Regions from separate parts of the Homo sapiens genome. Here all the other regions are linked to region 1. The links come from fine-mapping of genetic effects on gene expression. A gene starts in region 1. Each other region holds a variant in brackets. All regions are shown on one strand. Distances are between the middles of the regions.

Region 1 (2,757 bases):
TAACTCTATCCACTTGGAGGTCTGAATTCTCCGCTTGCAGATCTGTCTGGGGTTCAGTGATTTCCTGCAATGGCCACATGAATTTTAGGTATCTCCTGAAGCAGAAAAGTGTGACATTTGCTTCTGCGTTTGAACAGGACAGGGAGAAGCCGTGCAGTTTGCCTTCTGTTTCCACTGGAGGACTTTTAGCAATCCCTGGCGTCTGTGACACCTACAGCAGAAGTTCACATGGAGTCCTTACTTTAATTTTTTTAAAAAACAAAACAAGCTATTTTTGTGTTTACTAAAAAAAAAATTGGCCCAGACTGTCAATCCAGGGGAATCACATTTTCTTTTTTCATTTGGCCACCTTAAAAAGAAGGTAACAGGTACCTGGGAACCCACAGGTAATAGAGATTGTGAAAGGTCAGGTGGAGGAGACAAGGCTGGATGCGCTTTATTCAGCGGAGTGCAGCCTCCTTGGCGGTCGCAGCACCAGCCAGCCCAGCCAGGACGTGTAGAAGAGCCCGCCCCCCCCATCCCCTCCGAAGTAGGTCACAGCGAATGCTCCTTTTATGCAGAGTCCCCTGTTGCGATTCCTGCCGCTAGCAGCGCCTCTGCCAACCTGGGCTTTTGAACTGTTCTTTCGGGCGTTCTGGGCTGGGAGTCAATTGACCCACTGGATTCGAATCCAGACTTTCTGGGCCTCAGTTTCCCCCTAGGTTCAACGACAGGGGTGGACAGCCTTACACCAAGGCCTCTTCCCGGCCTCACACGGCGCGGCCAGACGTTCCTTAGTGGTGCGGCAAGGCCCCGCGCTCTGGAAAGGGCCGGCGAGAATGAGACAGCTGGGTCAGCACCAAGGACAAGGGCCCCGGGTCCGCCTGGCGGAGGCGAGGTCACTTCCAGGCGAACCCGGCTGCTGAGCAAGCGTCGGGCGCAGGGTTCCGTGGCCGGGCGGGAGGGCTTGGGGTGCCGGGAGAAGCGCTGTGGGAAGGGGAGCAGTCCCGGGGGATGAGGCAAGGCCGGGCCCCGCGGCGGTCTCGCAGATTCTGCGCCAAGAGGCCAAAGGTGGCTGCTGCGAGCGCGCCGCCCCTCCCTTGAGGCGCCCTGCCGCCTCCCGCGCCCTGCCCTGCCCGGGCCTTGGGGCGCACTCGGTGCTCCCGGCTCTGGAAGCCCCTCAAAGCCCCGCTTCCCTCACTCGTGGACCTCTCCAGCCCCTTTCCTGCCCCAGCGTCGCCTGGCTCCCTGTACCAGGGCTGCTTCTGGACACACCCGTGACTTCGACCCACTCCTGGGGGATGGGGTCCCGCATCGTCTTCCTGCAACCCCCATCCCAACTCCCTGCGGGGAAAGAGGCCCCACTCCCCGATGCTCCAGAGCCGGGGCCGCCAGGCGCCCCGCCCCCCGCTCGCCCCGCCCCGCCCCGCCCCGCAGGCCCCGCCCGCCGTTGCCCGGGGAACCGCGGATCCCGCAGCTGCAGGAGGCGCCCGGCCCGGCGGAGCAGCCCTAGCCGCCACCGTCGCTCTCGCAGCTCTCGTCGCCACTGCCACCGCCGCCGCCGTCACTGCGTCCTGGCTCCGGCTCCCGCGCCCTCCCGGCCGGCCATGCAGCCCCGCCGCGCCCAGGCGCCCGGTGCGCAGCTGCTGCCCGCGCTGGCCCTGCTGCTGCTGCTGCTCGGAGCGGGGCCCCGAGGCAGCTCCCTGGCCAACCCGGTGCCCGCCGCGCCCCTGTCTGCGCCCGGGCCGTGCGCCGCGCAGCCCTGCCGGAATGGGGGTGTGTGCACCTCGCGCCCTGAGCCGGACCCGCAGCACCCGGCCCCCGCCGGCGAGCCTGGCTACAGCTGCACCTGCCCCGCCGGGATCTCCGGCGCCAACTGCCAGGTGAGTGGAAGCGGCGGGCGCGGTGCGGGGCGCTGGTCCGGGACCAGCAGCCTCTTCCCGCCGGCCCTGCTGCTGCTGCCCGACAATGGGCACGCCTGACACAGGCTTTCCCACTTTGGGAAGAAGATGGATCCAGTCTCTTGGCCCGCGTGGACGCGGACCCCCGGGCCGACCCTGATTCCCTTACCCGCCCTGGTTCCCGGGCGGGGCCAGCCGGGCTCTCGGGGTGTGCCGCTCCGGGGCTCGGCACTTCTCGCGCGGGGCTCTAGACGCTCCGGTTGGCCACTGAGTGGCGCGCCCCTCCAGGCCGGGCCGAGCCAAGAACCACTTGAGCGGTGCCCGCCTTGGCAGCGCGGAGGAGCCGGCTCCGAGCGTCCCCGGCGAGGTGTTCAATGTCCAGGTGGTCCACGCTCCACGTCCGGCTGGACCCTGTGTGTGTAAAGGGTGTGCGGTGTGGGAGGCAGGTGATGGTGGGCCCCGTGCCAGGTGGTGGGGCACTTTCTCCTTCTCTTCCTACGCCCTTGAGGGCTGTGACAAAGCAGCCAGAGGACGAGGAGGGCAGCTGCCTCCCCTCGGCCTGCGACCAGCCCTCTCTAAGCTTAGGAGCAGTGTTGGAACAGTCGGAGGCATTCGAGGGGGCATTGTACGTGGCGCTGGCAGGGCCGCCCTTCCTGCCGGACGCTCCACGGGGCGCACGCTTGGGGCTGGCAGCCGGGGCGTGAGCAGGGCACCGGGAAGCCGCCAGAAAGCGTGGGGGCGGTGCGAGGGATGGGACGATGGGATGTAGCCAGCAGCCGCCCGTGAATTTGGGGTTTTCAGGAGAATTTGGCAGAAAATAATATCTGGGGCTTTTACAAGTCCGTTAAAGCTCTGTGAAACCTATTAACATCAACAT
Region 2 (2,757 bases), 270 kb after region 1:
CCTGGCTTTGCTGGTGCAATGGCCTCTAGCTGGAATGCGTGCTCCCCGTTACCCCACCTCACTGTACAAACTTCTACTTCTGGGGCTGACTCAGTTTCCCTTCCTCTGGGTTCCGACAGTCACCTACAATATCACTTTTGTGGTCTTGGAAACAGAACATTAATTATCCTTGTATGTGTCTCTCTCCTCCTTAGGGCTGGGAGGAACTGTGTTTTATTAATAGCTTTTGTATCAGCAGCAATCACCCTAAGCCACTATTTAGTGAGCACTGATCTTTCTAGATTCTGAGCCGGGTGCTTCACATCTCTGGTCTTTTTAGTGTCACATTTACACCAAGGTTTGAAATGCCTCTAGAGGTTCAGTCATGTGCCTGTGGCTACACACCCAGAATGGGGGCTGAGCCCAGATTCGAATGCCGGTGTCCCTGGTTTTGCTGCTCCAGTGCCTGGCCTGGAACTTCCAAAGGGCATGTCTCATACTCAACGAATAACTCAACAAGTTACTGAGAAATGCAATTTGGCACTTGAATGGTGTTGAAAAGCCTTTTTTCACATAGACTCTTAATTCCCCGATTTTCTAAGCAACTGATATTTTGCCAAGTGCCTCTTTCCTCTCTGCTCTGACATTCAGAGGGAATAGGGCTGTTTAATCTGCTTTGTAACAATGTTAGTAGTTAGGATTCTCCGGAGAAACAGGAGACAGAGAGCGAGGAGAGAGAGAGAGATTTATTTTAAGTAACTGGCTCATGCAATTGTGTGGACTCACAAGTCCAAAATCCGTAGGGAAGCTGGCAGGCTGGAAACTCAGGCGAGGTTTCTGTGTTGTGTCTTGAGCTGAATTATTTCTTCTTTGGGAAACCTCAGTCTTTGTCCTTAAGGTCCTCAGCTGTTTGGATGCAGCCCACGCACATTCTGGAGAGTCATCTGCTTCATTCAAAGTCTGCTGATTTAAACGTTAATCTCATCTAAAACACACCTTCATACCAACATCTAGATTAGTGTTTGAGCGAGTATCTAAGAACCATGGCCTAGCCAAGTTGACACCCGAAATGAACTATCGCAGTAACATTTTTGGATCTCATAAACCTTGAAGTGAAACAGTTTCTCCACTGTGTTTGACATGAGGATATTTTTCTTGGTTGACCTCCATGCTCTCCTTCAGAGCCAGGGTGGAGACAGGAATAGCTGCCCCTCAGAGGGTCCAGTTTTCTTCCATGTGGATTCGGGCTCACATGCTGTGAGCTGCGTGTCCTGTGGGAGGAGGCAGTGTGGCGCTGGCCCTTACCTATTGGGAATGTGGATCACTGAGACAACTTGTGTTTGCAAACTAAACAAGCTGCAATTGTGCTGGAAGAACAGAGGCTTACTCACGTACTGACTCACGAGCACGCTGTTC[C/G]CAGCTCTGCTCTGGATGTCGTAACACATGTGAAAATACCCCTCAGCAGCATTCTGAACAAAAACTTCCTTAATACTTTATTACCTGTCTCCTGAGAGTTCCGTTCTCTCTGTGAAGCCCCACAAAGAAGAATTAAATATTGTAAGACCAGAAAACAACTTTATTTTCTCCTCCCTTTCTCCTCTGACTTCTTTTCTTAATTATATCAAACTTTTTCTTTTTTAAAATTTTTTTGAGATGGAGTTTTGCTCTTGTTGCCCAGGCTTCAACCTCTGCCTCCCGGGTTCAAGCGATTCTCCTGCCTCAGTCTCCCAAGTAGTTGGGATTACAGGCTCCCACCACCACACCCTGCTAATTTTTGTATGTTTACTAGAGACAGGGTTGCACCATGTTGTCCAGGCCGGTCTTGAACTCCTGACCTCAGGTTATCTGCCTGCCTCGGCCTCCCACAGTGCTGGGATTACAGGCCTGAGCCACCATGCCTGACCCAAACTTTTTCTTATAGTTAGTTGATTTCTAAAACTTAAAATTGAAGGGAGTTAGAGATAAATAGTGTTTTTTAATAATACCAAATAGAGTTTTTCAACACGTGTGAGGCAACCAAATAGAAAATATACTGCCTGATGTTTCTCTTTCCACATTGGGAGAGGCAGCCGAGAGTGGTAGAAAGGACCTCTCTAACATCCTCGCTTATTGACTAAAACCATAGGAAATTTACAGGCATCTCTGGGACTCAGTTTTCCCCTCTATCAGAAAAGAGAGGAGAGTTATATGTCAGAGCATGAAATGAGAGGCAGGCAGCCCATTTCCTGGCATGGACTAGTGAAAGCTCTTCTTTCTTTCTGTCCGTGGAGATTCCAGCAGGATTCTCGAGCTATGTGGGGGTGAAATCACTCCTGTTTAATTTCCACTTTCCTTCCGTCTATTCTCTGCTAAAACATTCATGCCCACTTGGAGCGTTTGACTTGATAATTGTCTGTGGTCCAGCAGTAGCCCCTTAATAGCCTTGAAAAGCCTGAAGACGTGTGCATTCTGTTCGTGGAATGAACATGATCCCTTCATTTGTTCAGCAGTCTCAAAGCAGAGCCTTGTAATCGTGACAGGGCCCTCTTGTTGAACCTGGGAGCTGAAACTGCCTTCAGAGGGGATGTTTCTTCAGATTGTTAGGTGACTGTGTAAAATAAAAAAGGCATCTTAACACCAGGCAAGAACTTACATTTTAAGAGGTGAACATGACAAGTCTGTGAATGTGAAATTTCTCGTCTTCATCTTTTGGAGCATGTAATTGCTTCAACACCAGTTTGCATAATGGAAGAATCTCACGAGAATAGGTGAAATTGGGCATCTAGCTATGGAGCAGCA
Region 3 (2,757 bases), 58 kb after region 1:
TTCCAATTCAATTCACTGTTTCATTTTTAATCTTCTTGTTCTCAAATCATTGACTTAGGGACATTTTACATGTTTTTAAGGCCTATAAGGAAGAACCAGTTTTTTTTTTAAATTAATGATCATGAAATTCCCTTGAAATGCAGGTATCCCTGAAATTTAGGAAGTTGCAAGCCTGACTCTATCATCGCACTCCTGAATGGATTTCTCCCTCCAAATTTAGGAGAGCTGCTGGCTGGCCTGGGTATGACTGCTTATCCACCCGGCAGGTATTTTAGCTCTCAGAGATGGAGAAGCTGTTGTGAGAGTCTGGATACAAGAACTAGGTTGAAAGAGGTCATGTTTCCAAAAATAACGAGTTGCTTAGGCCTTACGTATCATCTTCTTGTCACATCGTATGGCACTAAGCAAACATTTGAATGCATGTTGACTATTACTTAGCTAATGAAGATAAAACATCTGGAGGTAGGTATCTTTAGGACCCTAACAACTCTCCTTTTGTTACTTATGTCATGTAGTGTTGAAATTGAAAAATCACGGTCCTAAAATTGTTTTTTGAGGAACTTCCATGTTGCTTATCTGTATCCCTGTGTTCACTGCGGCATTATTTACAGTAGACAAGGTATAGAACCAACCTAAATGCTCATTGACAGGTGAATGGATAAAGAAAATGTGGTATCTATATACATTGGAATATTTTTCAACCACAAAAAAATGAGGAAATCCTCCCCTTTGTGACCACATGGATGAACCTGGAGGACATTATGCTAAATGAAATAAGCCAGAAACAGAAAGACAAATATTGCATTCTCACTTATAGGTAGAGTCTAAAAAAATCAAACTCACAGAAGCAGAAAGCAGAACAGTGGTTCTGAGGGGTGGGGAAAGGTGGAGACGTGGATCAAATTTTCAGTTTTAAGATGAATAAGTTCTGGGATTGAAGGTACAACATGGGGACCACCATTAGTAATACTGTATTGTTTACTTGAAATGTGCTAAGAGGGTAGATCTTGGCATGTTCTCACCACACACACACACACACACACACACACGTGGTAACTGTGATGTGATGGTCTTGTTAATTACCTTGACTTGGTAATCACTTTACAATATATATGTGTATTAAGTCATTATGTCGTATACTTCAAATATATACAATTTTAATTTCTTAAGTATGCCTCAACAAGGCCAGAAAAAAAGAGAAAAATCATTGCCTTCATGTTTTTCAGAAAGTAAATGAATTACATTATAGTTTCATAGCTCCAGGACATCAAAATCTCTCAAAAACACATTTGCTGAAATTAAACTCCTCCTGTGAGAATGAATGAGTAAGTGTCTAGGTGTGAGAGTGGAATGAAGCTGATAATTTTAAGTGTTATAAATAGAAGTGTGGCTATCAAGGCAGTGGAGTT[A/G]TTTTAATTATTGACAAGAAATGTACCGAGAATAACAGGTTCGAGGGGCTAGATGCTGGTTCCCTTGCAGTGAGCTTTTCCCTTCCTCGTCCTCCAATCCCCAGGCTCACATTGTGGTTGGCTGAGCTGGAGCTCAGCCCACGCTTAGTGGTAGGGAATGAATCTCACCATGTGTCTGCCCCTCACCTTGCACTTTTCCAGAGGTGATCCCATTCATTCCCAACAACAGTATGAGGTAGGGACTGTTTTTTGCTGCTCACCTTTTTAGAGATGACCTTGAGGTACAGAGAGGTCAAGAAACATGTCCAAGGCCACACTGTGAGTAATTGTCAGAATCTGGATTCAGCCTAGGTCTCTTCAATCTGAAAGCTTCTGCTTCTGGCCATGTGGATGATACCTGTTTCCCATGAGACTGCAGGTCACATGTGGTAACCACAGGCAAAGGATGGCTTTTCACAATTACTTCATTAATGGCTCAGGTGCCTGTATTAATTTCCTAGGGCTGCAGTAATACATTATCACACGCTGGGTGGCTTAAGACAATGGAAGTGTATTCTCTTACAGTTCTTGAGGCCATAGTCAGGCATCAAGGTGTGGGTGGGGCCAGGCTTCCTCCAGACACTCTAGGGTCTAGAGGAGGATTCTTCTTTGCTGTTTCCAGTTTCTAGTGGTTTCTGGTATTCCTTGGGTTGTGGCAGCTTAACGTGAATGCCTGCCTTCATCTTCATGTGGGTCTTTACACGGCCTTCTTTCCTGTGTTGCTGTGTCTGTTTCCCACCCACCCCTTCTCTTCTCTTCCTTTCCCTTCCTTTCTCTTCTTCCCTTCTTAGGACTTGCCATTGCATTTAGGACCCACCCAATCCAGGATGATTTCCTCTGCAAATCCTTAATTTAGTCACATCTGCAAAGACCCCCTTTTCCCAACAGGGTCACAATGCATGGGTTTTGGGGGTTAGGACATGGACATGACATTTTGTGGGGGTGGTCACCGTTCAGTCTACTCTTAATACATCTCTTAGTTTCTTTTATGTATTCCAAATTCAACCAAGTTCTTTTTAAATGAAGGACCAAAAGCCATTCACTAAATGATCGATTTAGTGAATTTAGACCTTCTGAACTGTCGTATTTGCCTCTGCACTCCTGGATCTTAGGCTTGTGAAAACCTGGTGAAATCTCCTCTCTTTTCCTGAGTCTGATGGTATTTAAATCGCATCCTCTCTCACCCCTAACACTCCAGGAGGTTTTTAAAAGATGCTTTTCTGGTCTTAGTTATCATTTCTTACATTTTGTTTTCTTTTTTTACCAGTCCCTCTTTTGAATTCATTCCTTCTGCTTTCTTTATTTTTTA

Alleles and levels. Positions count from the first base shown, and alleles are read on the strand shown. Sizes are in standard deviations (SD) of each study's normalised expression.
For the expression in sun-exposed skin of the gene that starts at base 1,455 in region 1, allele C in region 2 goes with a higher level than allele G (small effect, 0.31 SD a copy in GTEx).
In carriers of allele G in region 3, the expression in atrial appendage of the gene that starts at base 1,455 in region 1 tends to be lower than with A alone (moderate effect, 0.43 SD a copy in GTEx).

What was found.
Region 2: its variant is fine-mapped to the expression of DNER in sun-exposed skin (GTEx, PIP above 0.99). The same link has a PIP of 0.9 or more in aorta, fibroblasts, tibial nerve and unexposed skin.
Region 3: its variant is fine-mapped to the expression of DNER in atrial appendage (GTEx, PIP 0.97).

The regions. Positions count from the first base shown.
Region 1 is chr2:229,713,253-229,716,009 of GRCh38, reverse strand. DNER (delta/notch like EGF repeat containing) reads left to right here and starts at 1,455. Exons shown (of 13, transcript NM_139072.4): 1 at 1,455-1,862. The coding sequence starts at 1,587. RefSeq lists enhancers at 1-772, 773-1,547 and silencers at 1,385-1,444, 1,515-1,624.
Region 2 is chr2:229,443,733-229,446,489 of GRCh38, reverse strand. The region is part of intron 8 of DNER (delta/notch like EGF repeat containing); the gene reads left to right. Among named protein-coding and RNA genes, the nearest start is that of PID1, 170 kb to the right of the region's middle. The variant C/G (reference allele first, on the strand shown) is at 1,396.
Region 3 is chr2:229,655,278-229,658,034 of GRCh38, reverse strand. The region is part of intron 1 of DNER (delta/notch like EGF repeat containing); the gene reads left to right. Among named protein-coding and RNA genes, the nearest start is that of DNER, 58 kb to the left of the region's middle. The variant A/G (reference allele first, on the strand shown) is at 1,410.